Homo sapiens: one gene and its partners. The protein of the gene in region 1 interacts with the protein of each later gene in a pairwise test. Each region holds a gene or a part of one and is shown in the gene's direction. Other genes may lie near its edges.

Region 1 (9,132 bases):
GATCCGCCTGCTTCGGCCTCCCAAAGTGCTGGGATTACAGGATTGAGCTACCATGCCTGGCCTAATAATAATAAAATAAAATAAAATAAAATAAAAAGTAGAGAATGGCAATGCCCCCTGCTCACGCATGGGCAACCAACTACAGAGCAGACCACCAGCCATAACCACACTTTCCCCTCACACCCTTTATAGTAATTCACCCTTTCTTTCAAGAAAAAATAGCCAGATGTGATGGCTCATGCCTGTAACCCCAGCACTTTGGGAGACCAAGATAGGAGGATCATTTGAGGCCAGTAGTTTGAGACCAGACTGGGCAACATAGCAAGATCCTGTCTCTACAAAAAATTTAAAGGTGCGGTGGCTCATGCCTATAATCCCAGCACTTTGGGAGACTGAGGCAGGCAGATCACTAGAAGTCAGGAGGTTGATACCAGCCTGGCCAAAATGGTGAAATCTCGTCTCTACTAAAAGTACAAAAAATTATCCAGGCATGGTGGCGGGCGCCTGTAATTCCAGCTACTTGGGAGGCTGAAGTGAAAGAACATCCCTTTCCGTCTCCTTCCTCAGTTTACCTGCCAGGCTAAAGCTGACCCCTTTGTTGTGAGTCATGAGGCAGCGGATGATTCTTGGTCTTCGGCTCCTGGGCTCAGAAAGCCCCTCCCCAGGACACACCAAGAGCAGGGCAGCCTCACTGCCCCAGAAGGACTGAACACGGCCCCTCACGGGACCCTTCCCTTCCTGCCAGGTCACAGAGTCCATGCGTCTGCTGGGGACCACAGAGCACAGGAGGACATTGCAGGGGGATCCATCTGCAGCCCTTGCAGATAACTGGGATCCTGTAGGGGAGAGAGGGATTCCTCAGTTCTTCACCTGGACTTCCTGGGCCACAGTAGCCCCTGGTCTGCATGCCCCCACTCACCTTTGAGCACCAAGACGTCGTACACCCTCCAGTTCTGGTAGTTGTGGTGCTGACCTAGCACAGCGCACCAGTACCGCCCGGCATCTTCCTCTTTGGATCCCTCCAACCACAAAGAATAGTTCCCCAGCAGTCTGAGCCTGGATTCCCTTCCTGGTTTTCCAGGGTCTGGGGCTGGCCTGCCCACTTGGACTTGGGCTACCAGGGTGGTGAAGGAGCCTGCTGCAGGGCTGCAGAACCATGACAGGTGTTCGTCCCCATGTAGAGTAGGTGGTGAGGGACATGGCAGCTCTACTGCCTCCCCCAAGGCCACATAGATGGCCTGCATGTTGTCTGTGGGAAGAGGGTTGTATGAGGCCAGAGACCTCCATCAGATCAATAACCCCCCATTTGATCTTCAACCCTGGCTTCCTTCCCTTCTGGGGTCCCCCAGCACAGGCCTGGCTGGTGACCACATTTCTCAAGTGACAGCTACAAAAATAAGACAGGTGGAGAGAAGAGGGTAAGGGCTTTCCTCCTCTCTCCCCCAGCCAGTGAGGGGGTCTGAGGGCAAGAGGGAAAAGGCTGAAAGTTGGCAAATGCCCACATCTCTTCTACTCATTTCTACTTTTCTGGAAGCATTTACTCATTCTTCTTATTTTATAAAGGAAACTGCATAACCTGGACCCTCGTTGCCTCTGGGTCTTCCCTAGTGTCAGAGGCAGGAGGAGGTTGGTTGGGGTAATTCTATCTTCTTGAGTCAGATGCCTTCGCCAGGCTCCTAGGAGAAAGAGCAGTAGTCCCTCCCCAACCTTGCAAATAGCTAAGGAATCCCGTACCTCTTGCCCCTTACCTGCAGCCTGGGGAGTTCCACATAGGAACAGGAGGAGGAATAAGACTGCCATGGGGAGAGCCTGCCAAGTTCTCTTGCTCCAAGACCTGGTGTCCCCAGGGAGGAAGCAGAGTCCAGATAAAGGCCCACACTCGCTGGTCTGGAGTGACAAGGGGCTCTGGAGGGGATGGGAATGCTGGGGCGATAAAGCCCAGCAGCATGTCTACTAGGGATAAAGTGACCACCACTTTTCTATCCTGGAGAGAAAAGGACCCAGCCCAGGCCACTCTGAAGATGACCTTTTTGCTCTTCTGATTCCACATCAGCTAAGGGGCTCAAATAAAGACTTTCCATGCAAAAAACCATGCAGAGAAGTGGTCCTGCCTGTCTAGCTCTTGTCAGTCTGGAAGTACATTCTGAGGTCTCTTTCACTCCTAAGAAAGGTCAGCCATGAGTTGGGTGGATCACTTGAGGTCAGGAGTTCGAGACCAGCGTGGCCAACATGGCGAAACCCTGTCTCTACAAAAAATACAAAAATTAGCCAGGCGTGGTGACATGTGCCTGTAATCCCAGCTACTTAGGAAGCTGAGAGGCACCAGAATCGCTTGAACCCGGGAGGTGGAGGTTGCAGTGAGCCGAGATCGTGCTACTGCACTCCAGCCTGGGAGACAGAGCGAGACTTCATCTCAAAAAAAAAAAAAAAAAAAAAAAAAAAGAAAAAGAAAAGAAAAGAAAAGAAATGTCAGCTATGAGTGAAGAAACTGAGTTTGAGTTTTTATGTTGGTCCTCCACAGAACCCAGCACAAGACTGTGTATCGAGTCAGTGTCCCGTAAATGATTTGGAATGACTTTCCCTGTGGTTGTCTGGCATACCCCGGACCTCTCCTGAAACCCTAATAAGTGTATTAAATTATTACTCAGGGACAAGGCTAACGGGCTGATTCATCCTTCTGAACGGCAAAAACTCCTAAGGCAGATCTTCATGCAGTTATTACAGTTTTAATGTGTAATTTATTTATTTTTAAAATTATTTTGATGAAATATTCCATACATACCAAAAACTATATGAAGTACAACTATATAATGGATAAATGCTTAACAGAGTAGAAGACTGGACAGCAATGAGAATGAACAAACCTAGTGATTTGCAACAAAGTTGAATCTCACAATATAATGAGAGTAAAAGAAGCCTGGCCAGGCATGGTGGCTCATGTCTACAATCCTAACACTTTTGGAGGCCAAGGTGGGAGGGTTGATTGAAGCCAGAAGTTTGAGGTTGGGCAACAGAGCAAGACCCCAACTCTGAAAATAAAGGCCAGACGCCGTGGCTCACGCCTGTAATCCCAGCACTTTGGGAGGCTGAGGCAGGCGGATCACGAGGTCAAGAGATCGAGACTATCCTGGCCAACATGGTGAAACCCTGTCTCTACTAAAAATACAAAAATTAGCTGAGTGTGGTGGTGGATGCCTGTAGTCCCAGCTACTCAGGAGGCTGAGGCAGGAGAATCGCTTGAACTCAGGAGGCAGAGGCTGCGGTGAGCAGAGATCATGCCACTATACTCCAGCCTGGTGACAGAGCGAGACTCCGTCTCAAAAAAATAAATAAATAATAAATAAATAAATAAATAAATAAATAGAATATTCCAGGCCGGACTCGGTTGCTCATGCCTGTAATCCCACCACTTTGGGAGGATGAGACAGGCGGATCACCTGAGGTCAGGAGTTCAAGACCAGCCTGACCAACATGGAGAAACCCCATCTCTACTAAAAATAAAAAAATTAGCAGGGCATGGTGGTACATGCCTGTAATCTCAGCTACTTGGGAGGCTGAGGCAGGAGAATCGCTTGAACCCCAGAGGCAGAGGTTGTGGTGAGCCGAGATCGGGCCATTGCACTCCAGCCTGGGCAATAAGAGCGAAACTCGGTCTCGAAAAAAAAAAAAGAAAAAGAAATAGAATATTCCAGGCCAGGCACAGTGGCTCATGCCTGTAATCCCAGCACTCTGTGAGGCCAAAGCAGGAGGTTCACTTGAGCCCAGGAGTTCGAGACCAGCCTGGGCAACATGGTGAGACCTTGTAAAATTAGCCGAGTATGGTGGTGTGGGCCTATAGTCCCAGCTACTCAGGAGGTTGAGGCAGAAAGATGGTTGAGCCCAGCAGGTGGAGGATCAGGGCAGTGAGCCGTGATTGTGCCACTGTGCTCCAGCCTGGGTGAAAGAGCTAGACCCTGTCTCAAAAAAAAAAAAAAAAAAAAACAGAAAAAAAGAATATTCCGTTTCAGTCAGAGATCCTCTATGCTGTGTAACCACAATTCTGAATTTTCTCTTTCTTCTCCACTTGCTTTATCATTAAATTTTATGTGTTTTTGAATCTAATATACTAGTATCACGTATACATTCTTCTGTGGCTTTCTATTTTCACTCAGCATCATGGTTTTAAGATCCAGTTCATGCATAACAGTAATGATTCATTTATTTTCTTTTTACAAATATTCCGCATATCTTACTGTGCTGAATTTTCGTATCCAGGACCATGGTGTAGCTTTCCATTTATTGAAAAGCTTTTCGTTTACCTCTTTCTTTTTTTATTTTTTCAATTATTATTGTTATTATTTTGAGGCAGGGTCTGGCTCTGTCACCCAGGCTGGAGTGCATGGAGCGATCTCAAACTCCCGGGCTCAAGCGACCCTCCCACCTTGGCCTCCCAAGTAGCTGGGACTACAGGTGGGCACCACCACACCCTGCTAGGTCTTTTTTTTTTCCCCCTTGGTATTTTGTGTAGAGATGGGGTCTCACTATGTTGCCTGGGCTGGCTTGGAACTCCAGGGCGCAAGCAATCCTCTCTCAGCCACCCCAAGTGTTGGAATTACAGGCATGAGCCATGGCCTGGAACTCCTGGACGCAAGCAATCATCCCTCGGCCACCCAAAGTGTTGGAATTACAGGCGTGAGCCACCGCGCTGGGCCAGTTTACCTTTATTTATTTATTTAGAGACAGAGTCTTGCTCTGTCACCAAGGCTGAAGTGCAGTGGGAAGATCTCGGCTCACTGCAACCTCTGCCTCCCGCGTTCAAGCGATTCTCGCGTCTCGGCCTCCCGAGTAGCTGGGATTACAGGCGCGCACCACCCATGCCAGGCTAATTTTTGTATTTTTAGTAGAGATGGGGTTTCACCATGTTGGCCAGGCTGGTCTCGAACTCCTGGCCTCAAGTGATCCCCCCGCCTCGGCCTCCCAAAGTGCTAGGACTACAGGCGTGAGCCACTGCGCCGGGCCGGGCCAGTTTGCCTTTTCAATAACTTTTTATAGTTTTCTTCATAAAACCTTGCATTTCTTGTACTAGATACATTCCTAGACACCTTATGTTTTCGGTTACTCTTATCAAGTACTCCTAATCTCACCCCTCGTTTCCGCTGTCGCTCTAGAGTCTGCCAATAATGAGACAGAAAAAAATTATTGAACCATGCCCGGTAATTTTCTGATTCTCCGCGTTCTAGTGGTCTTCCACTAGTTTCGGACCACTGCTGTACCCGTAGCTCCAACTGCGCGAAACTCTTCTCAGGAAGCACTGAAAATGTCGCAACTCGCCCGGAGGCGGAGCCGGTACGGGCTGACGTCAAGGGCACACAACACCTCAGAGGCAGGGAGGGCGGGGCCGGCAGGGGGACCTGCTGCTGGAAGAGCAGCGGCCCGAGCCGGGGCCATGGCGAAGCTGCTGAGCTGCGTCCTAGGCCCCCGGCTCTACAAAATCTACCGGGAGAGGGACTCTGAAAGGGCCCCGGCCAGCGTCCCTGAGACGCCAACGGCAGTCACTGCCCCCCATTCCAGCTCCTGGGTGAGTCGAGTTCCTCCCCACCGAAGAACGTGGTACAGTCCAAACCCTTTACGGCCTTTTGCTCCCCAGAAGTGCCCATAATGGGAAATAAGGGGAGCCTGCTTGTCAAGCCAGTTATCCGCAAAATCTGCGCTCTGTGTGCTTCCTGAGTTAAAGTCACGCCTACGGACTGGCCGCCTCCTTTCTTTTTCGCTCTTTACCGCTTTCTCATTCCGACTGCCACTCTTTGTTCTTTCCTCTCCGCGTCCCCCCGACCCTGTGTGTCGTGGTTCGTGCCGGTCCCAGTTGAGTCTTGAGTCCCGGGAAGAGACCCTGCGCGGACTGGGGAGCCGTTGAATTTTGCTGTCAGACTCCCAGTTTCCTCTTCTTCAGTGCCTCTTCATGCCTCCCCCGGCTCTGTTTTTATCTTCCCTTTACCCTCGCCTTGAATTTCAGAATGACTTTTACAGATCCTGTATCCGTCGGTCCTCCCCTCAACCCCCGCCCAACCTAGCCTGGAGACCCGAGTCATTGTATTCTGGAGAGCTGGCGGGTGGTGGTAGGCTGTTCTAAATATTCTCTTCCTTTTTATCAGTTGTCTCATTGTGTTACTGTCTCCTACAAACTGCCCGCTCCTACCCACATTCTCTTCTTAGTCAACTACTCTTATTTCTGATGCTTTTCTTTCCTTCTTAGATTGTCTAGGTGTCTTTTCTTTCTTCTCAAACTAACCCTTCTCCCCACATGCACGCGCCTGCAATCCATTTGAAACTAGGCTGTGGAAAAGGAGCAAAAATCGTCCAATGCTGCTTTCACTTTTGCTTCCAAATCCAGCTCCCTGTGTTTGTTCCCATGGTCAGGGGTGGGAAATTAGGTTCAGAGTGAGGGTGAGGAAGAGGAGTTTCTGTGGGGGCCAGGGATGTTTCAAGAGAGATAGTCAACGAGACTAGAACCAGAGGACACACAGCAGGGCTTCTGAAAGGGAAGGGAAAGGACCTGCCAGTGGGCAGGGTCCTTAAGGAGGCCATCTGTTTTGGCAGGATACGTACTATCAGCCCCGTGCCCTGGAGAAACATGCTGACAGCATCCTGGCACTGGTATGTCTACCCTGGCATCTGGGACTCTGCATCTTTCAGACCCACCTGTCCTCTTGAACTTAGCCCTCCCTAACTTGGGAGCAACAGTGCCCTGGGGTTGGGGGATGCCCTGGGCTCTGCAGCAGACCTCTCCAACACAGACACACAGGCACACTCTAAATGTGCATACTTGGCACTCCCCTTTGGTATGTAGCACTGCTTTCTCTGGGGGCAACCTGAGCCGTAAGGAAAACATGTTTACTCTTGGGACCATCTGCAGGTGCTAAGTCCTGCAGTTCCCCAGTGACCTGTCCTCCCTGGCAACTAACCTCTTTGGCTGCAGGGACAGCTGTTCTTTCTGGCACAGTTCCTGTGGTGACGTTTGCGCATCTCTTGGGGACCAGGCCAGGGGCTGTCCTGAGCAGGGCCAATTGAAAAGGCTTGATTAACTTGAGTAGACAGAGAGACTGCCTTTAAATGTGATGGAATTATGTCTGGAGATGGAAGACATAATTCTTCCATAATTCCAGAGGAAGAAAATAGAGCCTGTACCAAATTTTCCCAGCCTCCATTACATTGACACACTACTTTTCAACAAATACTGAGCACCTACTGTATTCATGGTGTCATACACCAAATATGATATGATATCCCTCAGGTTGTCCATCTTGCTCAGAGTGTATAGTATATGCCTGGAATGGCAGGTGTGTGTGTGTGTGTGTATTGATTGCCTGTCCCTGTCTCTCTGCTGCAGGCTTCAGTATTCTGGTCCATCTCTTATTACTCCTCTCCCTTCGCCTTCTTCTACTTGTACAGGAAAGGTCAGTGTGGTTTCAAAGGTGGTGGGGTAGCAAATGGGCAGGTTGTTGGCAGATGAGCCAGCTCCCTAAAGAGGAGAGGGGACCTGTGAAGATGGCTTGGCTTCCCTCTTCCATCAGGCATCTTCTTCCTCTTAGGGTATGGCTGTTCCAAACAGGGAGTGTGGGGTGGAGGTTGGGGCTGAACTGGGAAGAGGAGCTGAGGGACATTGCGGAGAGGGTCTCACATTGTCCCTCTCCCTTCCCAGGTTACTTGAGTTTGTCCAAAGTGGTGCCGTTTTCTCACTATGCTGGGACATTGCTGCTACTTCTGGCAGGTGTGGCCTGCCTCCGAGGTAGGTGGAGAGGAAACCTGGTTTGAATCTTATCTGTCACTGTCACTGGTTAAAAATTAAGTACCTTGTGCAAATACATTTTAGTGATGGGCCTCCGAGAGGGAATCATTGAGAATGGTTTAAGGCATGATCTTTTCCTTAAAAGACTTGGGTTATAAATATGAAAAAATAACTGAAAAGTAACAAAAAGGTTTGCTTTTTTTTTTTTAAGAGATAGGGTCTCACCATGTTGTCCAGGCTGGTCTCAAACTCCTGAACTCAAAGTGATCCTCCCACCTCAGCCTCCCGAAGTACTGGGATTATAGATGTGAGCCACTATGCCTGGCTGCTTTTATCTAGAAAAGATGCATATACCCTACAACAATTCTATATATGTATACATACTAGGAAAACTCCTGCACATGTATAAACAATATAGATGTACAAGAATACAGCATACAACATTGTTTGTAATAATCCTAAGCTGGAAACAACTCCAGTGGCTACAAATAGTAGGATGGATAAAATATGTTCTGTGTGGCCGGGTGTGGTGGCTCATGCCTGTAATCCCAGCACTTTGGGAGGCAGAGGCCAGTGGATCACGAGGTCAGGAATTTGAGACCAGCCTGACCAACATGGTAAAACCCCGTCTCTACCAAAAATACAAAAATTAGCTGGGCATGGTGGCACGTGCCTGTAATCCCAGCTACTTAGGAGGCTGAGGCAGGAGAATAGCTTGAACCTGGGAGGCAAAGGTTGCAGTGAGACGAGATTGCGCTACTGCACTCCATCCTGGGCAACAGAGCAAGACTCCGTCTCAAAAAAAAAAAAAAGTTCCATGCAATAGCCATGCAAGAGAACACTATATAGCAATGCAAATGAACAAACTGTAGCTACGCTCAACAACGCAGATGAAGCCAGGTGCAGTGGCTCATGCCTGTAATCCTAGCAGTTTGGTAGGCTGAAGCAGGCAGATCACCAGAGGTCAGGAGTTCAAGACCAGTCTGTCCAACATGGTGAAACCCCGTCTCTACTAAACATACAAAAAAAAATTAGCCAGGTATGGTGGTGAGCACCTGTAATCCCAGCTATTCGGGAGGCTGAGGCAGTAGAATTGCTTGAATCCAAGAGGCAGAGGTTGCAGTGAGCCAAGATTGCGCTACTGTACTGCATCCTGGGCAACAGAGCAAGGCTCCATCTCAGAAAAAATAAAATACAAAAAATTAACTGGGCATGGTGGCACATGCCTATAGTCTTAACTGCTTGGGAGGCTAAGGCATGAGAACTGCTTGAACCTGGGAGGCAGAGGTTGCAGTGAGCCAAGATAGCACCACTGCACTCCAGTCTGGGTGACAGAGCGAGACTCTGTCTCCAGATAAACAAAAGCA
Region 2 (5,781 bases), on another chromosome or scaffold:
GCTAAGATGGCACTTAGTCTCTAGCCCTCTATGTAGATTAATTCATGGCCTAAACTAAGGCAAGGGCTGTGGGAATTGTGAGGAAATCAGTGAATTTGCAGTTATCAGGGGACACACAAGCGCCTTCCCCTTTTCTGTATTTAGAGCACAGAGGGGTGGAGAAGTGGCTGGAAATACTCTGCTGAGGCCCTCCAAATCAAGGGACATTTCTCAGGTCCTCCCCACCTGCTCTGGGGATAGCCTGGCTGCAGTTCTGCAGCTCCCCAAAGGACAGTCCTGAGGCAGGTCTGAGCGTGTGCTGCATAATGGAGAGTTTCACAATCTCAGCAAATGAGCAGCCTAGAAGCATTCACCCCTGACTCGTGTCGGCAGTAGGCTGAGACTGAAGGAGTCTCACTGAAACCAGGATGGGTAGGGATTACATCCAACCTTATGGCAATGATAAAGGGGAAATGCCCATAGTGAGCCTATCTTGAGTCGGCACCCCCAGGTTTCTTCGTTAGTTCTTTTCTCTGTAAAGTGAGAGTTGCACAATGTAATCAGCTAACTAAAAGTGCATTGGGTGTCGCCCGTGCTACACACTGGTACTGAGTCCTGTCATCCAGAAGCTTGAAATCCTGTTCCTGGCCATGCCCTTACCTGCTTCTGCCCCTCCCTTTTCAAAACAACTGATCATTCATATCTTATTGAATTTAGCACTTACAGATCCTAGTCTGACTTAGGATGGAATTGAGGAGAGAACCAGAAAGTTATAGTACCCATTTTTTAAAATAAGCATTGACAGTAGTTTATGGAATGGTGCCCACAGATAGGGTTCCATGGGCTCTACAAAATTGTAGGGGAAATAATAGCGGACAAGAAGACTCTTTGGCATTCTTCTATTCAAACCATGGAAGTGGATATTGATTTCACTCAAGTATTTAACTTCTCAGAGAACTATCCAAAAGGTAAAAGTCAATAATACCATAGTATAAACCCTTTAGTTTATGTTTTGCTAAAACTATTGAATTAAACAGTGAAGCATCGTTTGCCCTTAAAAATGGACTGAGAATGAAGTGATGCTCCACTTTTTTTTTCTTTTTTTGTGAGACAGGGTCTCTGTCACCAGGGAGTGAAGTGGTGCAATCACAGCTCACTGCAGCCTCGACCTCCTGGGCTCAATAATCCTCCCGCCTCAGCTTGCCAAGCACCTGGGACTGCAGGGACACACCACCATGCTCAGCTAATTTTTGTATTTTTTGTAGTGACAGGGTTTCACCATGTTTCCCAGGCTGGTCTAGAACTCCTGAGCTCAAGCGATCCTCCCACCACAGCCTCCCAAAGTGCTGGGATTGCAGGCATGAGCCACTGCACCCAGCTGATACTCCATTTTTGGATGTATGGACACTGTTGTAAAAAATCAGAGCTTTTCCAGCAATAGAAAATTATTTAGACCACAAGCATATCTAAACAACAAGTGGTTATGGACACAGTTTTCAAAATAAACATATAAAAGAGATCTAGGATTAACCTGAAATATAAAATTCCAAAGCCAGTATTGTGTCTGTCTTTCACAGGTATTCAGAACGGTTCTATAATTCTGAAGCAGGGTAGGTTCTTTTAAAGCAGAGCCTTGTTACTTGTTAACAATAATAATACACATTTAAACAGTTAATCTAGAATTATTTACCCCATAGCCAACCTTAAGTAACATACTAAAATGTCATTTGTGACTGGTAATTATTGGTTATAATTATTTGTTAACTTGAGTTAGACACCCAGGAAGTCTGCTGAACTTTTTACCTATCAGTACCCGTTTCAAAGTCACTGATGAGTGTTTCTTCTGTTTCAGATCTTTGGCATGATATTCAGCATGGTCCTCTGCTGTGCGATACGAAACTCACGAGATGTGATATGAAGCTACTTCTACATGAAAATTGCAATCTAAAGCTTTCATACCAAATGTCACAGGAGCTGTCTCCCAGCTCATTTTTAACACTGAAATGACATTAGGATCTAAAATAATTTGCTGTCAATTGTACATTTGCATGAGTACGTATGTTTGGCTCATTACTGGTTTACCCCTTGAGTGAATGCCTGTTTATGATGACTGAGAGCATATTCATGTGTGATCTGCGTGTTTCTGGAATATGCTTTATACGTAATGAAATCTGTTTGCTGGGAATTCCTGATTCTTGTTATATAAGAAGAACAACCTATTTCGCTCCCAGAAAAAAAAGATCAAAGAGCTTTCAGAAACTTTGAGAACTTGGCTATTTAGAAAAAGTGATAATGGGTCAGTTTCTCAGACTGTAGCCATTGAAAATTAGATGCAGAGAATTCAGAGATTTCTTCTTAATGGAAGTAATAAGCTGTAAGAATTGAGAGATCACAATGGAGTGTTAAAACTGACTGTGTCTAAGTTGGGTGTAAGGGTTTCCTGGGTTTTTTTATATACATGCTCTCCCCAGAATACAGTAAACCACAGTTTTAGAACTAAACACATCTGTAAAACTAAATATAGCATGGAAAATCCAATTTGAATAAGTCATGCTTTCCTAGAATTTAAAAATAAAAAAGTCTTCCTCTGGAAAGAGAAGTCACACAGACAATCATGTGCCCTATAAAAGTGAGTGTTTATAGGACTAAAAAACTTTTAACAACTTTTTAAGGAAATATTTTTGTTCTTATACAAAAACATGTAAATATTGCTTTATTACTTTCATTTTCTGACCCTGCTGTAAACTACTGCAACCCTCACATCCTCAAAGGGACTTTTATGTCAAACTCTTCTGTTTCTCCAAATATAAGGAAAAAAGACTAAAGCAAGAGATCTGGCAGTTGAAAATTGTGGGAAAGAGAATTTGTATGGGCACTGTATCTATGAAATACCTCATAACTTACGTTTACATGTTTTCCTAACTTTTTGTATTTTTCTTGTATAGCCACCTAGAGAATTCTTCATAGATTAAGAACTACAGTTTTCACCACTTAACATAAGTAAAACAAAGTCCTTCATAATTTAACCATTAGCATCTTTGGCCAAACCAAAATAAAGAAAAGCATCTTCTCCTAGTTGTGTGTGGGCAACAGAAACAAGTTAAGGAAACAAAAATACTTATATATACACAGAACAAAAATAATGTTCTTTTTATGCAAATCCCCTGTGAAAATAAAATTTTCAATGTTTTTTTGGTCTTAACGCTTCATTTTAACTTAGTAAACCCAAATTTAGGATTTACATTGGCAAATTTTTCAGTGATTTTTAACGTGTTACATTTAGTAAACCATAGATTTTTTAAAAACTACATTTTGTAAGGCCACACATAAGTGAAAATACGGAAGGCTTTGGAAACCCCCAGATGAACTTCTATACATGTGAAAACACAAGTCTTTGAGTGTGCACTAAAAGTGTCACACTCCCAAAAAACTCACAAAACATTTTGCTAAAAAGATATGACTGCTTGAAATAGTCTCTCTCCCATGGAGAACCACATTTCTCTTTCTGCCATACTTGCTACTGCTACTGATTTTGGAGGAAATTTTTCTAGAAGAACAAAGGTCATATTTGAGGCAAGCTAAAAACTTAATTATACATGGCTACTTTACTGTGTCTGTAGCTAAAGAAAAATTATTTTACAAAAATTACTTCATGAAATATAGTTTGTACCCCAGTAGTTGAGAAATGTGACCTTTTAGGCAAAGAACAGGCAGTCCATCTCTCTTAGCTTTAGTTTATCTCTCTGCCTGAAGACAGGAAACAGGCCCAAGTGCATACTCGGGTTCTTTCCAACTCAGAATCATCTCTGATTCCACAAAAGTGAGTTTAGTTTCCTATCTGAATTAACAACTTTAAAGGAGACTATAATAGTTAAAAGTGGAAGAATAGAAATAAATAAATTTAAAATGAAATTAATTAAAGTAGAAGAGAAGGGTTCTGTTCCATGTACGATTAATGTGCCCCTTTTGGAGATAAGCTTTCCAAAATATGCGTATGAGTAAAATTAGAGAATTCCACCACTAAGCAACAATAGATTTTATATGTGTGTGTGGATATATATACACACACACACAGAAAGATGAATATATATATATATATATCTGTATAGACACACATATAATATATATAGATATATAATCCCTATATATCTTGAATCTACAAATATCTTTATATGTATATAATTTGAATATATACATGTATGTATATACAGATGTGTGTGTATATATATATATACATACACATATACATAAATTTTCAGCTATTTCTGTTCCCCTGAACTAATTTGAGATTAGACCCAAACATGCTTTTAAATGTCTCATGCCAAGGCACTGAATTAAGACTTCTTAATGTTGAAATATTTTAAGTGATTTCATATTAAATTTTCTATATACTGAAATTGCTTGTTTGATTTATCTTAAAGTCCTATTATATCTTTCTACAAACCTTCACGCAACTTATCTAAATGTCAAACTACCAATCAAATAATGTGATTAAAAAAAAACAGAGTGGTAACCCTTCTATAATTTGCTATTGGTAGTTGACTTAAAAGCAACACCCTAAGGACTCTTACTGCATATACAGTCATCTGTCAGTATTCATAGAAGAATGGTTCCAGGACCCCCTGTGGATACCAAAATCCACAGATGTCCAAGTCCCTTGTATAAAATTGTGTAGTATTTGCATGTAGCCTATGCATATCCTCTCATATACTTTATTTTTTTAATTTTTATTTTTTTATTGTTACATAATAGTTGTACATACTTTTGGGATATATGGGATATTTTGATATTAGCATACAATGTGTAATAACCACATCAGGGTAATTGGGATATCTATTACCTGAAACATTTATCATTTCTTTGTATTGGGAACATTCCAGATCTTCTAGGCCTTTTAAAACATATAATAAATTGTTGTTAACTATAGTCACCTTATTGTGCTACCAAATATTAGAACTTATTCATTTTATCTAACTGTATTTTTGTACCCAGTAATCAATCCCTCTTCATCCCTCCCTGCCTGCTACCCTTTCCAGCCTCTGGTAACCACCATTGTATTTACTACCTCCATGAGATCAATTTTTATAGCTCCCACATATGACTGAGAACATGATTCATCTTGATGATATTTGTCTTTCTGTGCCTGGCTTATATCACTTAATATCCTCCAATTCTATGATGTTGCTGCAATTGACAGGATTTTATTCATTATTCAGCCATTGTCATGGCTGAATAATATTTCATCGTGTATATATAGCACATTTTCTTTATCCATCTGTTGATGGACTCTTGGGTTAATTCTGTATCTTGGCTATTGTGAATAGTGCTGCAATAAATATGAACATGCAGACATCTCTTTGATATACTGATTTTCTTTCTTTTGGATATATACCCAGCAGTAGGATTGCTGAGTCATATGGTAGTTTTCTGAGGAACCTCCAAACTGTTTTGCATAGTGGCTGTTGATTGTTTCCTTTGTTGTGCAGAAACTTTTTAGCTTGATGTAATCCTATTTGTCAATTTTTACTTTGGTTGTCTGTGCTTTTGAGGTTTTACCCCAAAAATATTTGCCCACACCAGTTTCCTGAAGCATTTTCCCAGTGTTTTCTTCTAGTAGTTTCATAGTTTCAGGTCTTATATTTAAGTCTTTAATACATTTGAATTTTGTGTAGGGTGAGAAATAGGGGTCTGGTCTCATTCTTCTGCATGTAGATAACCAGTTTTCTCAGCACTATTTGTTGAAGAGACTGTTCTTTCCCCAGTGTAAGTTCTTGGTGCCTTTGTCAAAAGTGAGTTAGCTGT
Region 3 (8,936 bases), on another chromosome or scaffold:
CATATTGGGGCCAATTTGATTTGCTAGTATTAGACAATAAACTGTACAAGGAAATTTATTATCTCAGTGTCTTTATTTAGCATAAAAGTGGCCTTAGAAGAAGGGTGAAGGTTAGATAGATGGAATCTCTGTCAGGGGACAAACAGCTGTAGCATCCCCTTAGCATCTTTCTAGCCAATGAGCCCCCTCCCCAGGAGGAGGGATGGCCTGACTGAAACAGGTGAGAGTTTGCTTCCCCCTTTCAGCAGCATTCTTTTTAGATTTAGGTACTGAAGAATCCCAGTGAGTTCTGCATTTGTATCTTGCAAGTTTGTATAAACCCAATACAGGAAATAAAATGAATGGTTTGTATATGTGGTGTGTGTCTCCTACTCGGTGTCTGCCCTTGTGGTGCTTGTGGGGTTGTGGGGTTGGCAGCTTGTGGGGTTGGCAGGAAAGGGGAATGGGGGCTGGGAGGTAGGCTGGGTGTAAAACATGTGCTCCTTCCTCCCCTGTGCCTCAGCCTGCACTTTTTGGCCTCCATCCCCAGGAGCTGGGGAAGCGAGGGTATGCTACCAACACCAGCATCATCATTTCAGTTCAGGTGACCCCAGATCAGGGTTTGCCCCAAGGTTCTGTATAATGGCAGTATCAGATGCTTCAGGCCCTGGCACCTTCCCTTGGTTTGACTCATACAAAGGACAGGACAGCAGGAGAAGAGAATGAATTCCCAGCCTTTCTTGATTACTACACAATGCGCTATATTGCTGCTTTACAAGAAGTTGTATAATTTGGTGGGAGGTATGAGACCACCCCAGTTCTCATTCTGCCTCCATCCCTTTGGTTTATTTCTCTTGGCAGGTGTTTTGTGGTTATCAGGTATTGACACTCTGTGTGAAGGGCTTTACCAGTGCTTCTCAATTTGGAATCTTACTGTGGGGACCAAGAGTCAAGAAGCCTGGTAAATTTTGTGGGGTGGGTAGTGGAAGAGAAGAGGTGCGCCCGGGAGACTGGCAGGCTCAGCGGGGCTTCTGCATGTTGTCCGAGGGAGGGATGGCTCAAGAAAAAGCGAGAAGGAGAGATGAGAAAGCAAGCTTCCTCTAATTCCTGATCTTGCATCGGCTTGGCTTTCATGGCTGAAGCTGAATTCTGGACACCTGTTCCCATTTCTAAGGGCTAGTACGGGGGAGGTCATTTTTAAGATTCGACTCTATTTTGGATTTTGTCACATCCCCAGGATGATGTCCTTTGTGAACCCGGGAGAGTTGTGACCAGATGTAGGCTCTGGGGGAGGGCCTGCATCAGAGGCTGGGGTAGGGGGATGCATATTGGAGAACTCGTCACTTTCTGGGGGGCTGAGCCTTTATCTTCAGGCTCCATCTGAGCCAGAGCCAGTGGCAAGGGCTTGGGGAGGAGGTGGAATGTGAGACCACAGAGTACCACCGGGCATCACTGCATCCACCGACAAGGGCTGCCTCCTCCTCTCAAGAGATGATGCCAGCTGGTGCCTGCTCCATCCCCTACCAGATCAAGCCAGGTTGGGATTTGTAAAAAGGGGGTAGTAGCTGAGAAATGTAAATGAAAATGCAATAGCAGAATGTCCTTTAAGGAGCAGAGCTGTGTAACTGCATGATCACTTATTTATTCTTGAAGACAGGCACGACAGGGTCAGGCAGGCAGCCAAGCCTCAGACCCTGCTGCTGCCAGGGAACTGGGGCCACGCCACGTCCCCCTCCTCATCCCGAGCCTCACCTCGTTACTGAGACCAATGAGAGAAGGTGGCATGTCATCCTCAACTCCTGCCCCTAGCAACATGCTCCTTGCTAGCTGCATGAAGATTTGGACAAGTCATTAAATTCTTGAGTCTCAGTTCCCTCATCTGGAAAATGGGTATATTAACCACCATCTTATGGAACTTTCAAGAAAGACAAATGAGAAAATGGATGAAAATCACTTTGAAAACTCAAATTCACTTCCAAATGTGAGGAAGTGGAAGTGGTGATGTTGCAAAGGCTCCCTGGCCACCTGCAGGGGCCTGATGTGGGAAGAGGGAGAAGGTTTTCCAGGACCCCTCCTTTACTAGCTCTACAGCCTTTGCTGGAAGACATCACCAGGGCCCGTGCCATCCCTGAGGTGTCCCTCCCCTGCCACTTCTATGCCTCCAGCCCAGGGAGTAACTGCACTACCCCACACTTTTCTCATCATGGCAGGGTCATGAGACTGCCATGGGTCGAGGACTAGCACCAGCCTTCCCGGCGTTGTCCCTATGAAGGTCCCTCTCCAGAAGGATGAGTTGTGGACAGCGCCTCTGGGCTTAGCTCCAGTACCCAGAGAATCAGGCCCGGAGGGCCCAGTATCATGAGCGTTTAATTCTCCTGAGCTCACAGGTGGGTTCCATGGCTGGGGGTGGGGGCAGGAAGGGGCATCCCCAGTTGCTATTTTATACACCTGCGGGAGTGGTTTAGCACCACAATTTGAGATGACAGTAGAAGTCTTTCATATAAAGCATATTAACAGTATACTAATAATAACATTAATAACAATAGTAATTATTATAACTATACAGTAACAGGAATAACAGTGGTTCATTAAGTGCTTACTATGTGCCAGGTACCTGGTTCTATGCACTTCACATGCATTTACTCATGAATCCTCATCCTCTATGTCAGTCATAGGTACTATAATTATCCAAGAAGCTGAGGCACAGAAAGGATAAATAAAATGCCCAAGGCTTCACGAAGCCAGGATGAAGCTCTTAACCTACGAGTGATTTCAACAGGGATGATTCTGGCCCCTAGGGGCATTTGGTTGTCTCAATCATAAGGGTGCAAAACTCTTGCTGGCATTTCGAGACTGCAATGCACAGGACAGATTTCCAAAACAAAGAATTGTCCCATATCCTGTACTACTTTCGAATGTACAACTGAACTAAACCCACTACCAGTAAAAGTTGGTCATACTTCAATTGACAGTAATACCAAAAGGTTTTGTAAGCTTTTAAAAATAAATTTCATGAACACTCAGAAAGTTAGGAGATGGTTATTATGGAGCAGAAGCTTAAAAGGAATAAAGACATTGTCTTAAAATTATTGAATAATCTACTCCATGCATTGTCTACACAAAGGATTATAAGATTTCAGCTACTATGTATTTGATTGAAAACAGTTCTGATCAGTAGGTGATACTGAATAAACGAAGAAATTGACTGAAAATATTTAACAGAGGATATGTGAGAGAAGCAAACATGGAATCAGAGACACTTGAGATGCAGAAGATCTCACTGAGTTTCCTTAATAAAAGTTTTTAGGGTTTATTTCATATTATTGCCATCCTTTATATGTTTAGTTTTTTTGGAGCCCAAGGATGCTATGTTGTCATAATTATGTGTGGAAATGTTGTGTCCTGTCTTTACAACACTGTCCCGGGTGTCCACATGCAATTGCTCTAAACCACTTTTATCTTCTTTTCTTTTCCCAATCCATCCTCTATCCCCCATTGCCCATTGGAAATATGTGATCTCTAAGGCCTTTTAAGATCCCAGAGACTGAATTTTACCTCAACGCTGATATGTTTCAAGACAGAGGTTGATGTGTCTGTGGTACTCTATGGCGACCCCATTCCATGGGAGCTATTTTGACAATACACACATACCTAAGACTGAGTTCCTTTGCATGCACATCATACTTCTATATTATCTCCACCTTGTGCTCTCTAATTTGCCTTGCTATGTTATCCCTATTTCAATTAAGATGCTTTCCCTCTCATCATATGCAAGTACGTCTGGTCTGTTATTCCTTATCTAACAGTTTTTATTCTATGTTCACTTCCTGCTACTCTTTCATTTTCTTGCATGTGTGTGATTTTTGTTTTTGCATAGAATGGCTCATCTTCTATTTCTCTTAAATTCAAACATATATTATGTGTGGGTGCAAGCAATCTGCCTATTTCATTTATGTCTTCTGGTAAGTCTTGCCTGAACATTTATATATTGAAAGACATCATGTTTTATTATAATTTATCTTTTTGTTTCTTTTTAAAAAATTATGTTAGCTTTCCTTGGTTTTGTTGTTGTTGTTTGGTTTGTTTTTTTTTGAGACAGGATCTCGCTCTGCTACCCAGGCTGGAGTGCATGGCTTGATCACAGCTCATCGCAGCCTCGACCTTCTGGGCTCAAGCAATCCTCCTACCTTAGCCTCCCCAGTAGCTGGGACTACAGGCAGGTACCACCACATCCGGCTAATTTTTTATTTTTATTATTGTAGAGACAAGGTCTCACTATGTTGCTCAGGCTGGTCTCAAACTCCTGGGCTCAAGCAATCCTCCTGCCTTGGCCTCCCAAAATGCTGGGATTACAGACATAATGCATTTTGTATGCCAGGCCTATTTGCATTTTTAAATGATGTATATAGGTAGTCTTTGAAATTCATTTCTTCATTTCTGGACACAGAAGACATTGCAAAGTGGATGTTGGCTCTCCTGGCATCAATGCCACGTCAGAACCACTGCTCTGCGATGGGAAAAAAGGATGTTAGGAACTAACTGCCTCTCTTTTTGCAGGCCCAAAGGACGAATCCATGTCTACACAGCTGGTGGGTAGACTAGAACCAGGCCTCCTAAATTGTGCAGTCCTGCCCCAACCCCAAATTCAGGGCTTTGTCTTCCATAGCTCAACATCACAGTCAGTCCAAAGCTTGGACGCCGCTTGGGGAAAGGAGGTCGAAGACCTTCACGTCTAACTTCCCCCATGGCGCTTTTGCCATTGATTTAACCCGATCTGGCTCTGCCATTAGGTCAACAACAGGCTTTGTGCTCAGTCGCTCATCGCCTCCCAGCGCCTAGCATGTGCAATAGCAGAGAGCAAAAAGCTTGACTTTCAAGATGAATTTAGTACATTCCCAAAGGGATGCGCAGATGCCAACTCTTCCCACACTATCAAACCAAGCAAGAAACTTGAGCACCCCCTAGATTCCAATGCTTCCACATACAATCTAAGTTTCGCGGAGCAGACGAGAGCCGCAGAACACCGCGAGGTGCGAGGAAAGGGTCAGGTGGGCGGTGCCTTCCCCGGGCAGGCGCGGCAGGTGGAGGGGCGGGGCATTGCCCTACCGGAAAACGGGAGGAGGGAGCTGGCGAGTAGAAGCACCTGCGTGGTGTGCGGGGGTGGAGCGGGGGCTGGAGGGAGAGTTAATGATTTGCCACAGGCTCATTTCGCAACTTAACCAAGGGTCAGCTTCCCGTGACCATGTACCAGCTGCGTCCTCTGGGCCACGCTCCACTTGCCCGCTTCCACCCGGAAAGCCCCCCAGGCTGAGTGCGGCATGATCTCCATCACCGAATGGCAGAGTAAGTGGGATGAGCGGGGCTGCAATGGGCTATCCAGGCCAGGCTCCCTGCCGGCTGGCTCTCTCTCCCAGCTGGGCTCTCTGTCACTACAAGCGTGACCTCTGGAGCCAGGGGCTGGGAGATGCTGTGCTGGCACCCTGGGGCAGCAGGCAGGGTGGGGTGTGGCTCCCTACCCTCCAGCGGGTGGGAGTTGCTCAGGGCCCACAGGTAGCTAGAGGCTGGTGCCCAGGGGGCCTGGCAGGTTCCCCATTCACACTGACCCCTTTCCCATCCCGGGTTCTTAGAACTGGGTTGCCACAAAGGTGGACTCAGGAGGCCTCTGCCCATTCAGACATCTTTCCCCACACCATCAAGGTCTCCTGTGGCCCTGGGGGCTTCTTATAAAAAACTAAACTCCACTCCCCTGACCAAACCACCATACCCTCACTCCTAAACATCCTTCCCCTTCTTTTGGGGGAAGAGGTAGGGAGGAGGTCTTGGAACAAGTCTGGGGCCATGGGAAGAACCGTGGCTCTGTGGGCTTCATTTGGGTGAGTTACTTAAAGCCTCTGAGCCTTGGTTTTTCATCTGAGAATTGGTGACAACATTCTTTTGTTCACTCAACAGATTTGTCTCTGCTGTGTGCCAAGCACTGTGTTGGATATAGAGTGTCCAACATTAAATGAAACTGACTCCCTGCTTACATTCTAGAGAGGGGAGACAGGTAATTAACAGAAAGAAGTATATAGTATATCAGAAGATGATAAGTCCTCCAGATGAAAATAAAACAAGAGGAGGCTATGGAGTTCGAGGTAGGAGGGGTCGCTATTTTATATAGAGTGGTCAGGGAAGCCTCACTGAGAAGGTGAGCCTTTATTCAGATCTTTTTTCAGAGATCTATAGGAAGTGAGGAAGCAAAGCCACGCAGCTCTCTGGAGGGGAAATGTTCAGGAAGCAGGGACAGGCAGTGCAAAGGCCCTGAGGCATTAGCATACTTGGTGTGTTTGAAGAACAACAAGGAGGTGGGTATACCTGGAGCAAAGTGAGGTGAGGGGAGAATCATAGGAGTTTAGGTCAGGGATGTCACTGAGGGGTCAGGACACTGGAGACTTATAGACCATGGTAATGACCTTGGTTTTGTGCTATGGTGTGATATGTTCTATTTCTATGTTTAAAAGATCATTCTGGGTGCTGGGTTGAGAATAGACTGTGGAGGTATGAAGGCAGCAGCAGGGAAGCCAGTTCTTTTTTTTTTTTTTTTTTTTTGAGACAGAGTCTCACTCTGTCGCTCAGGTTGGAGTACAGTGGCATGATCTCTGCTCACTGCAACCTCCACCTCCTGGGTTCAAGCGATTCTCCTGCCTCAGCCTCCTAAGTAGCTGGGGTTACGGGCACCCACCACCACACCTGGCTAATTTTTGTATTTTTAGTAGAGATGGGGTTTCTCCACGTTTACCAGGTTGGTCTCGAACTCCTGACTTCTCAAGTGATCCACCTGCCTGAGCCTCCCAAAGTGCTGGGATTACAGGCGTGAGCCACCGCGCCCAGCCAGGGAAGCCAGTCCTGAGTGTGTGAAGGTGGAGACCAAGGTGTTAGCAGGAGATTAGCGGGGCGTGGTCCATGCTGGATCTGCCTTGAGGAAAGCGTTGAGGATTTGCTGACGGTTTGGACATAGGGTGTGAGAGAAAGAGGAGTCAAGAATGCCTTGTATATTTTTTAGCCTGTGCAATGGGAAGGGTTGAGTGGGGGGAAGCAGGAATTGGGCTTTAGATGTGTTGAGTCTGTTTGTGCTGTTAGACATCCGGGTGAGATGTCAGGTAGGTGGTTGGGTATGTGAGTCTGGAGTTCCAGGTAGAGGCCTGGGCTGGAGACAGAAATGTGGGAATAATCTGCATATACATGGTTTTTAGGACTATGAGCATCCATGAGATCACCGAGGGCAGGCACAGTTTCTCACCTCCCCACTATTGACATTTTGGGGCAGGATAATTCTTTGTTGTGGGGGCCTGTCCTGTACATTATAGGATATCAGCAGCATCCCTGGCCTCTATCCACTACATGCCAGTAGCACCCCCACTCCAAGTTGTGACAATAAAAAATGTCTTCAAACATTGCCAGATGTCCCCTGGGAAACAAATTTCCATCCCGCACCCCGCTTCCCCACCCACAATCCCCTCAGCCCAGTTGAGAATCATGGACCTGGCGAATAAAAATATAGAGAGAGGTGGGTTGGGTCCTCAACCCAGTGGCACGCTGACACTTTGTTAAACCAATTAGCCTGCAAGTAATATACTCTTACCAAATATGATAAGCAAGTCCTGTGAGAGAGAGAAATGAGGGATTTAGGTCAGGGAAGAGAGTGGACCAGCTTTCCCTGAGCAACTGACATTTCAGCTGAGACCTGAATGATGAGGATGCATTGTCAAGTAACAAGTGAGAGGCAGGGTGTTGCAGACCAGGAAACTGCATGTACGAAGGCCCTGAGTCAAGAGGGCTCACATGGAAGCCATGGAGAACAGTGTGGTTGGAGCATGGCAGGCAATAGGGACAGTGGCAGGAGATGAGGTGGGCAGGCAGGCCTGGGCCCCACCAGGCAGGGCCTGTGAGCTGTGGTGTGGATGAGAAGGCTCTGCTGCAGTCTAATCTCAGTGGGCAGCCGTGAAGGAGTCTAGGCAGTATGCTAACATGATCAGGTTGTATGTTTTGCAAGACCTTTGAGCGCCGTGTGGAGAAGGACTGGGAGGGTGCAGGAATAAAGCAGGAGGCCAAATGGGGGCTGCTGCATACGTCCAGGAAAGAGATGATCGTGGCCGGGAATTAGGTGTTAAGAATGGAGAGAAATGGACAGCTTTCAACATGTATCTTGGAAGAAGAAAAGAAAACTTAGCTGTGGATTTCATGGGGGAGGGGTGGGCTTCTGCGTTAAGTGGTGGGGTGGGCGGTGGTGACATGTTTACTCATTTGAGGACAACCAAGGGAGGCACAAGTTGAAGGAGGGAAGATAAATAGACCAGTTTGGGATTGAAGATTAGCCCAGTTCAAGATGGCTGAGAGAAAACCAGGCAGATATGCCAAGTAAGCAGCTAGATATGAGTTTCAAAGCCCAAAGAGAGGCATGGACTAGAAAGAGAGACATCAGTGTCATCAGCATACAAGGGAGGTTTGAAGACGTGAGAGGCTGGGTGTGGTGGCTCATGCCTGTAATCTCAGCACTTTGGGAGGATCGCTTGAGGCCAGGAGTTCAAGACCAGCCTGAGCACATTGCAAAACCCCTGTCTCAACAACAAAAAAATTTAAACCAATTTTAAAAAATTAGCTGGGCATGGTGGCCAAGTGCCTGTAGTCCCAGCTACTCAGGAGACTGAGGTAGAAGGATCCCTTGAGCCCAGGAGTTCAAGGCTGCAGTGAGCTATGATTGTGCCATTGCACTCCAGCCTAGGCAACAGAGCGAGATCCCAGCTTTAAGACAAAATTAAAAACAAAAATAAACACATGGGAATACATGTGGAAATAGAATGAGAAGAGAAGTGAGCTTGGGCACAAGCCCTGTGCAATTCAAATCCCAAGAAGAAGAGAGAGAAGTAGGAGCTGGCAGAGGAGACAGAGAAAGGGCAGTTAGAGCAGTAGGAAGAAAA
Region 4 (8,788 bases), on another chromosome or scaffold:
AATATGCTCTGTCTTGCTCTGTCTTTGATTTTGTCTCTTCTTTCCTTGACTCATTTGAGTGTTACAATTTCAGATTTGAATTTTTTCTTAGAAGTTTACTTAGCCCTATAATCTAGGCAAAGCAGCTTTTTAAGTGATCTAACCTTAACCTTTTATATTAGACTTCTGCACTGGAGTTTGGGGCCAAAGCCACAGTTAAAAACAAAGTTTCTTTGTTTTAGGACCATGGCAAGAATTTTATATTCTTCGAATTCCTGGCATAAATGTATCATGATATCATCTCTTAAACATTCTATTCCCAGTTTCCAACATTAAAGTAAATAATGAGAATATTACAGTCATTGTATAGCTTTCTGATATATTTAATAGAACCAAATGATCTAAGAGATTTTAAAGCCATTTAGCTATATATTGCATCATAAAACAATTGTTTTTGTTTAGAGATGAAGATTTTTCTGGAAGTCTTTGTATTTAAAAACTATTTCTCTTCTCTCTTTTGGGGGGTATCATTCAATAACAAATACCACATTTTAGGCATTCTCAGATGCATTTTAACGTATCTGATATCAGGATCCATCTTATTGTTGGTAGTATACATAGTTTAATTAGCAATATTTTTTCTTTCTTACAGTTCATAAAGTAAGGATGTATCCAATAAATGATGGCAACTTAGAATTGATAAAATACTTGAGATTGGCCTGACAGTTCTAAGGTGTTTTTGTTAGTTTACCAATCTGAGGAATTTTGGAAACTTTTGCTGTCTGATAAGTTACTAATTTGTATCATATGTTAAAGTGCTTTGCTTTGAGTTTGGAATAATTGCAGAAATTCTAATTATCTGTACAAATTGTTACATACCTTGAATTGTTTTTAAAAATAATAATAGAGAATACTTGCTCTGTCATTAATTTTCCTTTGTGTTAAATATGTTAATAAAATATTTTTAAACAATATATGCAATAAAAATTAAAAGTTGTAAAGAATGTTTATGTCATTTCTAGAGTACAAGTGCAAATGTAAAATTATCTTGTTTCTCCTTGTAGTAATTAGTTTACTATATGAGGACATTTGCATGTCTTTTTAAAAACCTATATTTTGTCCTCATGTCTTTGTTTTGTTTTGTTTGCTTTTGTAAAGGCTTTATTGAAACATAACCTATATATCATATTGTCTTGTTTCTTCAAAGACTTGCAGGCTACGTTGAAGCATTGGCTTCCAGGTTAGGCCTGTCAATTCCTGATCTCACACCAAAGCAAGTTGACATGTGGCAAACACGTCTTAGTACACATTTGGTAAGTAATTTACATGGTTTATGATAATGAGTTGGGTAGCCAGAGCAAGATTCTGTATAGTTCAGGCCCTTGAGAAATTTGAGACTAAAATTGGTTTGAATGGAGTTTTTAACAAAAATTGTCTAGACGTTGGCAGTTTTCAGAAGAACAGTAATTTGTGTTATTAACTCCTTATTTTTTGTAGGTATACTTAATTTTTAAAAAATATTTTGTAATTCACTTAGTATTAGGGAGTATCTCTTATAGGTTGGGGTCTAAAGAACATAAAACGAATAATAAACTGTGGTTATCCTTGAGGAACTTGTTTAGGTGGAAAACCAAACATATAAACAAATTATAATTTGGTATGACATATGCAGTAATGAATTATGTACAAGATATAACCATGATACAGGTAAGGGAATTAACACTGTGGGGAGTAACTTCTTTTGGTGGGGAGATTTCTTGGTTATTATTAGATCTAAGCCGATTTTTGAATTATAGATGAGACATTTACTAGATGAATAAGAGGAGTTCCAAGCATACTGACTAGCAATTAGAAGAGGATGATAAAAAAAGGGTATATTTAGGTAAATACAAGAACCGACTTTAGGAATATAATATATAGTAGCTGTAGGTATAAGCAGCAGCAGGAGACAACATTGGAGAAGTAAGCAGGGATCAGACAGGAAAGCTATTGTATGTGAATGCTAAGGAGCTTGAGCCTCTTACCTAAGTGATGGAGAGCCAGGGGAGTTTTAAGTAAGAAGTAAACTGGATGGATCATGATGCCATCAATAAAATCAAGAAAAAAAGGAGGAGGAATAAGCTTGTAAGGGAAGATAATGAGTTCTATTTTGGACGCATTGAATTTGAGATACTAATAGGACATTTGAGTGGTGACACCTAGTAGGCATTTAGGTTAGAGTCAAGAGTTAGATAGGTCAGAGTTAGTGATAATGGGTATTGTCACTCCTTCATTCAACAAATACTTATTGTTTACGTATTATATGCCAAGTAGAGATACAGGAGTTTTGAATACATTGGTTAACAAAATAAGATCTTATTTCTGATAGATCTTACATTCAAGCAGTGAGGAGACAGACAATAAACAATCTGATAAATAAAAATATTTAGCATATTAGAAGTTTATATGTGTTATGAGAATAAAAAGGGAAAACAGAGCGAGGTAGAAGAGGCTAGGAGTGCTAGGATGGAAGCAGACTGCAATATTCAATAGGAGAGTCACTGTAGGCCTCACTGAAAAGGTAGATGATTGTTCAAACCATGGGAGAAGATGAGATTTCATAGGAGAGTGGTTCTCAAAATGTGGTGCCAGCATCAGCAGGATCAACATTACCTGGTAACTTCTTAGAAATGCAAACACTCAGTCTTCATCTTAGACCTATCTATTATTGTGTAAATTATTGCAGCTGGATGGGGTGGCTCATGCTTGTAATCCCAGCACTTTGGGAGGCCGAGGCGGGTGGATCACCTGAGGTCAGGAGTTTGAGACCAGTCTGATCAGCATGGTGAAACCCTGTCTCTATTGAAAATACAAAAATTAGCTGGGCGTGGTGGCAGGCGCCTGTAATCCCAGCTTACTCAGGAGGCAGAGGCAGGAGAATTGCTTGAACTTGGGAGGCAGAGGTTGCAGTGAGCCGAGATCAAGCCATTGCACTCCAGCCTGGGTGACAGAGTGAGACTCCATCTCAAAAAAAAAAAAAAAAAAAAAAACAAAAACATGCAAATTCAGCAGCTTAAAACAACATATATTTGTTATCTCTCATTTTCTGTGGGTCAGATCAGGAATAGCTTAAATGGGTCCTCTGGAAGGCTGCAATCATGTCCAGCTAGGACTTCGTTCCTGTCTAGAAGCTCAATTGGTGATGAATCCACTTCCAGGCTCACCCAGGTCTTTGGCAAAATTAATTTTTTTGTGGCTGTGAGGGACCTAACCTCTGGCTTGCTGTTGCACTCTCATGTCCTGGAGGCCTCCCTCCATCTAGAGCAAGCTTGTGCAACTCGCTTTTGGTAATCCAAAAGTTTACCACAAATTGGTAAACTTTCTTAAAACATTATGAGATTTTTTCTGTGATTTTTTTTAAGCTTATCAGCTATCGTTAGTGTTAGTGTATTTTATGTGTGGCCCAAGAAAATTCTTCTTCTTCCAATGTGGCCCAGGGAAGCCAAAAGATTGGACACCCCGATCTACGGGTCACCTGCAGTTCTTTGCCATGTGGCCCTCTCAGTAGACCCTCTCACAACATGGCAGCCTGCATCTTCAGAGCCAGCAAGGGAGAAAGGGAATGAGTCTGCTGGCAGGATGGCAAGATGGAGCCTTATGTAATGTAATATAATCACAGGAGTAACACCCCATCACCTTTCCTATTACTCAAAGCAAGTTAGAGCATCCTACCTATGCTCAAGGGGAGGAGATTATGCAAAGACTTAAATACCAGAAGGAAGGTATCATGGAGGCCGCCTTAAAATGTGCCTGCTACAGATTCACAAAATGAAAAGTTCTGGAGACGGAACCCAGCAATTTGTGTTTTAATTCTGTTGTACATTAAAATTTGAGAACTGTTGTTCCAGAGAAAATGTGCAGAATTAAAGAACCCTAGAAAATACCTAAGAGCTCATAGTCTTATGGGAGCTATCAAGGACGAAGTTTTAAGAAGTAATGAATGATAACCAATTCCTCTTGATATAAAGAAATCAAATAAAATTTCTGAAAATTTTTTTTTGTTTTTGGATTTGGTATGTAGTTGCTCATTGATAATCATTTCTGAGCAATTTCTATGGACTGATGGAAGAAGAAAAATCAAATGACAATGAATTGAAACACTAACGGGAGGTGAAGAAGAAGAATAAAATATAAAATTAATGTTAAGTTAGATGGAATTTATTTTAATGAAGATATTGAATGTTTTGGAAGTAAACAATTTTTACCTGCAAAATATTCATACAGAGTACAAAAACATACACATAGGTAATATAGAGTTAAATTCATCACTAATCACTTTAAATCACTTTAAATCTGCAATAATTACTACCCTTTAAAATATGAGTAGTAGAAGGATCACAACTATACCAGGGAAGTGTTTGCTTTTCAATCAAAATGTAGGAAGAGTGTGGAGAAACAAAATGAGGACCTATTTGCTTGTTGTAATTTTTACTTTATAAAGGTTGAAAAGTCTTTTAAGAAAGTAGAATGTTAATTTTGGGCTTTTCCTTTTAGTTTACATGTGTCCATATCTTACAATTTGTAAGTAAAGTGAGACTAGCCCCTGATACCAGCTGGAGTTTTGAGGGAATAAGGATATTCTAACATTCTAGCAATTTGTCTTAAAAATTTTAGCATTAAAGTTGGGATCAGAAGTTTATTTTCCTGGGGCATAATAATTGTTTTCTTTCTGTATTAAAAGCAGGTTCATTTTCTCTTCTCTATGACAAAAGCATCAGATTACTAAACTAGTATTACTATATTGAGTGTGTGTGTGTCTGCGTGTGTATTGTGATAAACCCCTCACTGGTTTATGGCAACAGTGATTCTGTTCCTTAGTTGTTGACTCTGCTTGTTTTTAGAATCAAATCTTCTACTCTGTAACATAACATTTTGATTCTATACAGCCTGAAGTATTTGAAGTTAGTGACCAGCCATCTACTCATGACAAAAGCTAACTCTGAAATTTACCCATGATAGAATAAATACAGATACACATGCAGGTTCCAGTTGACACAGGTGTATTTTAAAACCTCACTTGTAATTTGGTTGTTTGAAATTCAAAAAATATTTTCTTATAAAACAGTATTACAGATGGGACTCAAGTTCTACAATTAGCCCCAGTGTAGTTAACTATGGGGCCTAGAGTATTGTAAGACATAATGATAATGTATAAATAAATGTTTTCACAATGGAAAAATTTGTTTCAGGTCCTGGATCAGGGAGTGAGAAAAGTATATCACTTTTTTTCCTCTTCTCCACCCTATTGACATTATATCTCTTGAGATAATTGGGTCAGAAATCACTGACTGGTATTCCTAAAGTGAGGGGCAAGGAAAGCCTTGGTTGCAAGAGGAATTTAACAGAATGGGTGGGAAGTGAAAGTGGGGCCTATTGGCAATGGTTATTTTCTGTATATGGGAAAGTCAGGAGTCTGAAATAGAATATAATGATTTCTCTATGCATATATTCAAATGAGTAAATATGTTAAAGTCAAAAAACAAGAAGCTAGGATTAACTTTATCAGCATGTGGAATGAAGAAAATTTCTTCTTGTTAAAACTCTGCATGAATGATACCTTTTAAAGTTTTGGCATAACGAAAATAACAGTTTTGACTATTAATATCAAGCAGTGGTCATACTACTAATACCACTACCACCACCAAAAGCCTCAAAATAAGAGTTGAAAAATTTTTATGCAAGCTATTGTCAAAATATTAATGTCTACTATTAAATTTGTTAGAAAAACTGTAGGATGTGGGCTGGGCGGGGTGGCTCACACCTGTAATTCCAGCACTTTGGGAGGCCGAGGCGGGTGGATCATGAGGTCAGGAGATCGAGACCATCCTGGCTAATACAGTGAAACCCCGGCTCTACTAAAAATACAAAAAATTAGCCGGGCGTGGTGGTGGGCACCTGTGGTCCCAGCTACTCAGGAGGCTGAGGCAGGAGAATGGCATGAACCCAGGAGACGGAGCTTGCAGTGAGTCGAGATTACATCACTGCACTCCAACCTGGGCCACAGAGAGAGACTCCGTCTCAAAAAAAAAACAAACAAAAAAAAAACTGTAGGATATGATAGCTAAATAGACAATGTATAAGAGAAAACATTTCATTCAAGACTAAAGATTATGTAGCTATCATAGTAACTGTAATGTTTGATAGAACTTATTTTGTCTTTCCCTGTGTACCTAACTAGAAGTTCCTGGAGGAGAGAGACAGACTGCATAAGATTAGTCCATCTCCATGGTACACCCAGTACAGAGTTTGACACATAGTAGCTTCTCAATAAATATTTGTATGAGGAAATGAAACTTAATTGAAAAGTATATAAACTTGATAGTCATCATAGGAATGCAAATTTTGAAAACCATTTACAAAAATAACAATTTTAAATTTTTATAATGATCTGGGTGTGGTGGCTCCCAGAGCCTGTAATCTCATTTGGGAGGCCAAGGTGGGAGGATTTCTTGAAGCCAGGAGTTCAAGATCAGCCTGGGCAACATAGGGAGACCCTGGCTCTACAAAAAAAAAAAATAATAAAAGTAACAAAATTATCTAGGCATAGTGGCATGTGTCTGTAGTTCTAGTTACTGGGGAGACTGAGTCAGGAGGCTCGCTTGAGCCAAAGAGTTCGGGAAGAGATCAGGAAGATGGCTTGAGCCAAGGCTGCAGTGGGTTATGATCATACCACTGCGTTCCAGCCTAGGTGACAAAGGGAGACCCTGTCTCTAAAACAAATAAAATAAATAAAAATGAAATAAAATTTTTATAATGTAGGTGAAGTTGCAGGATAATTGGTATGTGTGTCTACATTTATGTATACTGAAATTGCTATGTAAGTATGTGCAGCGTTGTCAAGGATGAATGCTTCATGAAGATGCACAAATATTAATACTGTTTGACTTTTAAACAAATCATTGGGGAAGAAATATACATGGAAATGCTTATTGTTATTTCACTTATAATGTTGAAGAAGTAGCAGTGGCTATGGCGGTAAAGAGAGATTTAAGTAGAATATAGACCCGTCAATTCAGTTGAACTTAGAAGTCTTTAAGTTTGTGTAGCAGTTTGGAAAAGAGTTTGTGAGAAAATGTGTGGCTATGCAGGGGTACGGATTGAGGAAGAAAACAAAGCTATGTTTACATAATGATTATATCTACATATAATTAGGTATACACAGGGATAAATATTGAAGAGGAATATATATGAAGGGTAGCAAATCCAAATATATTGAGAAGAGCTGGTGAGATTTTTTCTCTGCCTTCTTGTTATCAGAGATAAAGTAACTTTAAAAATGTTCTCTTTTGTTTCCTTAGGGCAAAGCTGTTGGGGTGACTATTGGCTGCATTCTAGGAATGTTTCCTTTAATTTTCTTTGGAGGAGGTGAAGAAGATGAAAAACTGGAAACGAAAAGTTAATCCTCTTAGAATACCTATAAAAAGATGTAAACTAATGTACCTCAGTAATTAAATATGCTGTCACAACATTTAGGAATTAAGACAGTAACAGTATAGATATGGGATCAAATAATTTAGCATGTATTATGGAAAACACTAACTTATTGTGGCTTGATCTTCTTAGGACATCTTTTTTAAAAAGCTGTTTAGTATCATTTTGTGTATATTGTTGAAATGCTTTTTCATCAATAGCAGTCAACATTTTATCCTTTCTTTTTATATTCATAATGTTATTTAAGTGTCATTGATGTACTGTATTGACTTGGGGTTTGCTTATTTGTTACTTAACATGTGTACATGCATGAAAGCATTTTTCGTTGTTCCCTGATAGTTACATTTCAACCTTGGGATTTTTCCAAATTACTTAAGATGTTTAATGTCAGTTAAAGATTTTTTTACCCTCTTTTTGGGAACATCAATTTTGTACTGTTATGCAGTAAACATTTATAATAATATAATTTCAGTCATTTCTTAACTGTCACATCTATTGAAAATGGATATAGATACAGGTTTTAAGTATTTTAAGTATATATTACTTATTTTAATTTTCTGACTTTACTATTTTAAGGGCCAGAGGGTTAATCACAAAGAGCAATTATGTGGTCTCCCTGCTACATGAAACCGTGTATACTAACAAGCGTACAATTTTTAGTTGATTTTTTTTAACCTTTTAGTTTCCCAGTTTTGAATAATTACATGGTGGATTCTGACTTTTGAGGGGAAGCAAATGATTATTTTAGAGTCTTTGAAATGGGGATTGTGGAATTAGATTGAACTAAGGGATTTAACATGATGCTTGGAAATTAAGAGACTAAAGCTTTTTTTAAAAAAAGGTGGAAAATAGGAACTGTCAAGAAGGTTTATGGTATAAATGATGAAGTTGAAGTGATGTTTGAAAGATTAATGAGATACAATTTATATTATTTGGTAAGGTTTTTTTTTTTCCCTCCAAAGATGTCATCTTCTCATCTGAATGGAATAAGTCTGAATACCCCATATTCATACTCCTAATCTCATTATATCTTATTTAGTGAATTTTATTTATGAATAATTTCTGTTGAAGTGAAAACTAGATATTTAATATTTTGCTTTTTTGCTACATAGTCTACTCAAAAATTACATGAGGAGAAATCCTTTTTCCCTTTGTTTTTCTTTTTTCTTCTTTTGTGGTATTTAAAGCATATTTTAGGTTGAAGTTACTTATTTCTAGTCTTGTACTTCTGGCTTAAGTATAACCATGTAAGAATTATAAATTTTAGTTTTCTGAACCCTTAAACTTTTTTAGCATGTGGTCTGTTACACATGCTAAAAAATTAGTCTTACTTGTAACA

Evidence for each region.
Region 2: the proteins of ABHD16A (region 1) and TSPAN2 interact in binary tests that used the Homo sapiens proteins (3 or more experiments, as listed by UniProt).
Region 3: the proteins of ABHD16A (region 1) and GOLT1A interact in binary tests that used the Homo sapiens proteins (3 or more experiments, as listed by UniProt).
Region 4: the proteins of ABHD16A (region 1) and TMEM65 interact in binary tests that used the Homo sapiens proteins (3 or more experiments, as listed by UniProt).

Annotation. Positions count from the first base shown.
Region 1 is NC_000006.12:31,699,575-31,708,706, reverse strand, and holds the start of ABHD16A (phosphatidylserine lipase ABHD16A), read left to right. Parts: upstream 1-5,382; 5' UTR 5,383-5,425; coding exon 5,426-5,557; intron 5,558-5,748; exon of another isoform or gene 5,749-5,938; coding exon of another isoform or gene 5,939-6,095; intron 6,096-6,576; coding exon 6,577-6,633; intron 6,634-7,366; coding exon 7,367-7,433; intron 7,434-7,615; exon of another isoform or gene 7,616-7,678; coding exon 7,679-7,765; intron 7,766-9,132. Other genes in the region: LY6G6F (lymphocyte antigen 6 complex locus protein G6f precursor), read right to left, coding at 573-836, 920-1,249, 1,749-1,800; LY6G6F-LY6G6D protein precursor, read right to left, coding at 573-836, 920-1,249, 1,749-1,800. UniProt on the Homo sapiens protein: Phosphatidylserine (PS) lipase that mediates the hydrolysis of phosphatidylserine to generate lysophosphatidylserine (LPS). LPS constitutes a class of signaling lipids that regulates immunological and neurological processes.
Region 2 is NC_000001.11:115,046,606-115,052,386, reverse strand, and holds the end of TSPAN2 (tetraspanin-2), read left to right. Parts: intron 1-1,831; coding exon 1,832-1,897; 3' UTR 1,898-4,376; downstream 4,377-5,781. UniProt on the Homo sapiens protein: May play a role in signalling in oligodendrocytes in the early stages of their terminal differentiation into myelin-forming glia and may also function in stabilizing the mature sheath.
Region 3 is NC_000001.11:204,210,268-204,219,203, reverse strand, and holds the start of GOLT1A (vesicle transport protein GOT1A), read left to right. Parts: upstream 1-5,215; 5' UTR 5,216-5,297; coding exon 5,298-5,322; intron 5,323-8,936. UniProt on the Homo sapiens protein: May be involved in fusion of ER-derived transport vesicles with the Golgi complex.
Region 4 is NC_000008.11:124,312,590-124,321,377, reverse strand, and holds part of TMEM65 (transmembrane protein 65), read left to right. Parts: intron 1-1,186; coding exon 1,187-1,292; intron 1,293-7,316; coding exon 7,317-7,418; 3' UTR 7,419-8,788. UniProt on the Homo sapiens protein: Essential for maintaining proper cardiac intercalated disk (ICD) structure and function as well as cardiac conduction velocity in the heart.